2 separate regions of the Homo sapiens genome follow, and region 1 is linked to region 2. A link means that fine-mapping ties the variant in region 2 to the plasma level of a protein whose gene starts in the linked region. Region 2 holds a variant in brackets. A gene starts in the other region. All regions are shown on their reverse strands.

Region 1 (2,912 bases), not on the chromosome of region 2:
TGCTAAGTAAGTGCTTCTGGGGAGATAGAGTATTTCAAATTGGATTGTCATGAAAAATTTGGAAAATTTGAAAGCTAAAACTCTTGCTTTCATTTCCTACTGCCTCAATTCTCTGTATTCTGAATTTACTCCCTGTGTCCCCCTAAAATTGCATTTGCAAAAGCCGATCTTCAAGTTACATCCAATGCCCGCTCTGCCTCATCTTCTATGGGAAACAAGAATTTTAGAGGTCAGGTAGCCTAACACCATCAATTCTCAAAAGAGGAAGCTGAGGCCAAGAGAAGTCCTGTGAATTTCTTACAGCTCATTTGTGACAGACCAAGAATTACCCACTTTACTGGGTTGTTATTTACTAAGTGACAGTGAGTCTATATCTCTTTTGACAAGTGAGGTGGGGGCATGGAATTCGGCATGTGGTTGGTGTAAGAACTCCCCTCTCTCCTCTTTAACCTTACTTAATAAGACCCTGGCACAGTTGATATTTTAAGAGGGCTACTCTGTTTTCCCAGAGGGACCTAGGCACGGTAACCCTCTTAGCATGCAGACCTTGTTTCCTGAGGGGTAATGTTTCCCTTCCCTGTGACTTGTTTCTTGGGGGCTGTGTTCTGATTTTCCTGCTGAGCCACTTGTTGCCTTGGGCTGGCTGCCGCGCTTGGCAGTTTTTAGTGAGGGCTCTGATAGATGCCAGGAGGTGAGGGGAAGGGCTCTGGGTGGACTCCGTCATTGGACAAGCAGACTTAGTGATGGATGAGCCTTCCCCTGAGGAAGTTTTGGATCAGAAGTCCAACTGATAAGTTTTTCCAGAATTGAGTAACCCAGAAGCAGTGCCGAAAGGATCTTACCTCTCTTGTGGCTTTTTGTATTGATTTTAAAAGAAATTCTCAGAGGCAGTTCCACATTGTACTGGAAGCACAGCTATATCCACAATAGGCTTAGATATATGTAACATGAATTGCTTTAGAAATAACATTTGAGGAGAGGGGTGAGAGGAAGGAAGAGAGGGTCTTAAAAAATAGCCCTATCAAAATATTTTCTTTCTTCTAAGTATTGAAAAGACACAATATAACCCTTTCTTCTTTCAAATGATCTCATAGCTATTTGTTGAGGGGAAATACCAAATGTTTATTATTTTTTTTGAAGAAGCTTCTTCGGTCCTGATGATTCATGTTGATATCATTTTCCTCCTGACTACAGAGGCTCTGAGACAAAGCTACACCTCAAGTGATATGCCAGGGTCAGAACAATTCCCGTCCTGAAGGAGGGTGTGCAACCTTCTTTATCCCTCCTTCACAGACGTCCTTGAGCCCTTGAGACGGATGTGAGTGAGTTTTTCAGTCCTCATGCAAAACAACCATCTAAACATAACAGATGACATCAGCTTGGGCTTTTCAATTCCTGGATGGCAGCAGCGTGTTAATCCAGCCTTCATCCTGGATTTCATAAACCAAAACAAGAGAGCCTGGCAGGAGGACAGCGCTGCTGCTGGGTTGAGGAAATTGATGACGGGAAAGCATGCGGGCAACCCAGTGTATAAAACTCATAAACGTGTAGGCAGAGGCTCAGCTACCAGTTTGGACGGCTGCTTCCCACCAGCAAAGACCACGACTGGAGAGCCGAGCCGGAGGCAGCTGGGAAACATGAAGAGCGTCTTGCTGCTGACCACGCTCCTCGTGCCTGCACACCTGGTGGCCGCCTGGAGCAATAATTATGCGGTGGACTGCCCTCAACACTGTGACAGCAGTGAGTGCAAAAGCAGCCCGCGCTGCAAGAGGACAGTGCTCGACGACTGTGGCTGCTGCCGAGTGTGCGCTGCAGGGCGGGGAGAAACTTGCTACCGCACAGTCTCAGGCATGGATGGCATGAAGTGTGGCCCGGGGCTGAGGTGTCAGCCTTCTAATGGGGAGGATCCTTTTGGTGAAGAGTTTGGTATCTGCAAAGGTAAAGAGTGACCCCTTACCTCTCCCCTCCCGGGGCATGCTGAGAGCTTTTAGCCAGCTTGGGAGGTGAGGTGGCTTTGCTCCTCAAGAGTAAGAGGGAAAAGGCAGGTGGATTCTTGACAAGGCACCACACAGGTATTGTCATGGGTAGAGACTGAAGGATAGCTCCAAGTAGCAACTGAAACCAGTGTGCAGGAAGGCACAGAAAGAAGTGTGGCATTTTACTCGTTGCCTTAGGAGATCGCAAAAAGAAAGCTGCAATGGAAGATTGTGTTGGCTCCTTTTCTGGAAAACTTTAGAAACTTGACAGGTAATCTGTTAAGGATGGCTTAGGTGCTCTCTCCTCTGCGAGGCAGCGATTACAAAGGTCTGCACTAGATAACCTCTTGGAATGGTTTCTAGCCCCCAGATTTAGTGATTCTTTGATCTTGAAAGGGTCCACAGGATGGAGGGCCACTCTCAAGATCAAATATTTCTGATAAACACAAATGCACTTTATGGAATAGAGTGAGCTTAAGTCATCTAACAAAATAACTCACTCTTCAAAGAGGGTCCCCTGAAGCATAAAACAAACCTCATCTGACTTTATAAAGGTTTTGGTCATCTGGAAAAATAGCAGATGGTGTTAAGACAAGGAAAAATAACAATAGAGAAAAATAAAAACTGGAAGTCTGTAAAGAATGAGGTTGACCACTTGTACACTTAAAGAAAAACTTCGTCGGTTGAAATTTTAGCTAAATAATGTAGTTAAGCATTTGTAGAATTTATTTTAAACATAGTAACTAGTTTAAAATATTTAACATTTTAAAAATGTTTAGAATAAAAAGAATGATGATTTAAAAATACTCTACGTATAGATATCTCATGATCTTATTATGAAGAGCTATTATTAAGAAGCAACACATGCTATAACCCCATCCATCAGTTGTGTAATACCAGGAAGCTTTCAAAATTATAAAAAGGACTGAGAAATTT
Region 2 (2,890 bases):
CTGTGCACAGGCAGGAAGATGGCGGCCTCCACTGACCAAGCTCTCAGACGACTCATCAGCTGTGACACACGCCTTTTCATTTGGACCCATTAGGGTAACCTGGTGGAAATAAAGCATCTGTCACACCCCAGGAAAGTGTCACACAGGTATTCCCAAATTCTCTTTCTCCACAGCCCTCAGAGGTCTGACGGCCATTCATACCCATCAACCGGGAGAAAAATCATGTCATTTCCATAATGCACACCCTCTCTGCAGAGGCGCTATAAATATGTAGAGATGACATCGCCGCAGCGTGGCTTGTGTGAGTGATGTCATCTCGGGGGGTTGCCTAGCAACCCCGACAACGTTTGGGAGGCTCTAATTCTTGAGTGGGATAAAGTCACATTTACGCAGTTCAGTTAATCAGCTTCCTGGCAACTCCGCCAAGATGATCTCATTTTATTCATGATTATTTTATGTGAAATGCACTTTTAGCTCTAAGAGAACACAAAGATTTAATTCAAAACTCGCTATTGCTTTGTGTTTCCAGGGTGTCGTTAACACGGCGTCCATGCAAATAACCATGGTAACACACGGATAATTAGTATATATGGCACGCGGTATTAATACAGAGCCGGGGCCGGCTCCCAATCAGCGCCGATTACCGCGTGTTATTACTGGAGTAATTACCTGCAGTAACACACAAATTGAACTAAATGGTCAATTGAAGTAAAGTGAATGGCTTTTTATTCTAGTTCCTAAATAATGTGTCTGCTTGGCTGAGTAGTTCAAGGTAAATAAAAGTCTTAAATTGATGGCCTCTTCCCCACCGCCCCTCCCTGGGTGGAGAATTGGGCTTCGTGGGTCTTGCAGTCTGGTAACCAGACAGTTACTCCTGGAAGCATCTGCCTCTCCTCCAGCCTCCCCACCTCGAAAACGAGCACCCCCATCAAGCATCCCTGCAGAGCTCTGGCCCTTATTAAAAATTCCCAAGCCCTGTGTGCCGTCTTACTCATCCCCCCAGGGAAGAGGGCACGGAACTTTCCAGATAGAAGATGAAGAGCAAAAGGCAGCGGCCTTCCTCCCAGGGATGTTTTCTTGCCCCTCTGGTAGGTGGGGCAGAAAGGAATCACTGGCTTCCTGTTACAGGATGGAAGCGGGGAGGGGAGGTCAAAGGTCACTTCTGCCTTATTAGCAGAGCGTTTCTAAAATTCCATAAACTTAGAAGATCTTCAAACAGGAAGTCACACTGGACCTCTCAAAGAGACAGGGCACATACCGAATTTGAGCTGCTTCGCTCCCTTCAGAGAGGGAGAGGGAGAAGGGAAGGCATGCAGACGATCCTTGGACTGGGCGCGGAGAAGATCAGATGCCCAGCGATGGGGACAGGGGATAGAGTCAGTCTTATTCTGGTCCTTTCTCTGTGACAGGAGCAGTGTTGGGACGGAAGCAGGCCTGGGGAGGTGGGAAAGAAACGTCAAGTCCTTCATTCAGCCCATCTGGGATGATGGGCCAGGGTGCCCACATGGGCATCGAACTCCTAGAAGGCAAAGACAGAGTGCAGAGGAGTATAAAGAGGGTCCGGCTGCTCGGGGTTTCTCTGAGGGAGCCGTATTTAAGCTGAAACTGGAAGGGTGAGGGAGGTCGCAGGGAAGGAGGT[T/C]GCAGGGAAGGAGGCTGCAGGGAAGGAGGGCTGAGGAGGACACTAGCAGTCAGGGAAGGGCCAGCAAAAAGCCCTGTGACTAAGAGAGGCCACTCCACTGCACCACCATCTTGAAATGTCACATGTGTGGAAATGCGTAAGTACAGAAATCTAGGAGAAGGAAAGAAAAACGTGGCTTAAAAACCCACAGCCATGTCTGCATTCCAGGGTGGCAGGGGCAGAATTCATTACAGGGCAAGCAAGATGCTTTGTTACTCAGAAAACCCTCTTAAGCGCCTTTGCTTGTCAAGGTAAGGCCACCTCTCTACTCTGGATTGGAGAGTCTGAGACCAACAAAGAGAACAAATTGCATTTCAAAACAAAGGGATTTTTGATCAAAACACTTGCAGGTGCACAGCTGCTCACACCCACTGCCCCACCACAAGGCAGCCATCAGTGCAATATAAACAAGGGGGCCCAGAACATATGCCTGGGCTGAAAACAAGACAAGCCTCTCACAAATCAGAAACAGAAGGAGCAGGGTGAGCACCACAGCCCACAGGGCTCCAGGTTGGGAGTGGCAGGATCTGGACTCAGCACTCCCAAAGGGCAACAGGGACTGGAGTCCAGTGCGGGCCAGGACACAGGCTTGGGAAAGAGGGCAAGAAAACAGCCCAGCAGCCTTGGTGCTGAAGTTATAGTTTAGGGACACTGCAGTCTATGGAGGAGGCAGGTGGTGGGGTTAGCAGGGAAGGGCTGATGCCACAACCTCAAAATGAGAAGCCTCACCAAGATGCCTTCTGCCTCCAGGACCGTATCTGCTTTGTGCTCCATGTCACAGCACTGCAGAAACACCACCTTAATACCTGATTCTAGACTAATCAGGGAGAGAAAGGGAGCAAACGATATAAAACCAGATGAAGAAAAACCTCAACTCCTCCCAATCGAAATGAGCAAACTAACATTTTAAAACACAAGAAGAAATGGTAGAGGAAGAAACTGATTTTGTATGGCAATCTGACAAACACTTCAAAATAACATTGTGTTCCATAATGACATAAAGTCTCACATCTATTGAAAAATGAATAATATATCAATATATCCAAAAATTGTATGAAATTGGACAAAATGGGCAAATTCTTAAGAACAAATACATAACTCATTGACACAAGCTCAAGAAGGAATAGAAAACTAATAGAAATAGAAAAACTAAGTAGTCCTATAACCATTCCATGAATTTAATCAGTAATTTTAAAAGAAAAAAACTTCCTA

Alleles and levels. Positions count from the first base shown, and alleles are read on the strand shown. Strength reflects both the effect of a copy and how common the allele is.
In carriers of allele C in region 2, the plasma level of the protein whose gene starts at base 1,562 in region 1 tends to be lower than with T alone (moderate association).

The links. PIP is the posterior inclusion probability: the model's chance that the variant is causal. Protein levels are from antibody-based Olink assays in UK Biobank. Linkage for the fine-mapping came from a reference panel and not from the study's own genotypes, which makes the PIPs less certain.
Region 1: it holds the start of ESM1, and the variant in region 2 is fine-mapped to the plasma level of the ESM1 protein (UK Biobank, PIP above 0.99).

The regions. Positions count from the first base shown.
Region 1 is chr5:54,984,243-54,987,154 of GRCh38, reverse strand. It overlaps ESM1 (endothelial cell specific molecule 1), which reads left to right and starts at 1,562. Exons shown (of 3, transcript NM_007036.5): 1 at 1,562-1,938. The coding sequence starts at 1,638.
Region 2 is chr9:134,203,560-134,206,449 of GRCh38, reverse strand. LOC124902298 (a long non-coding RNA gene) reads right to left here. Exons shown (of 3, transcript XR_007061835.1): 2 at 1,259-1,434; 3 at 1-99. Among named protein-coding and RNA genes, the nearest start is that of RNU6ATAC, 40 kb to the right of the region's middle. RefSeq lists enhancers at 1,726-2,225, 2,226-2,727. The variant T/C (reference allele first, on the strand shown) is at 1,640.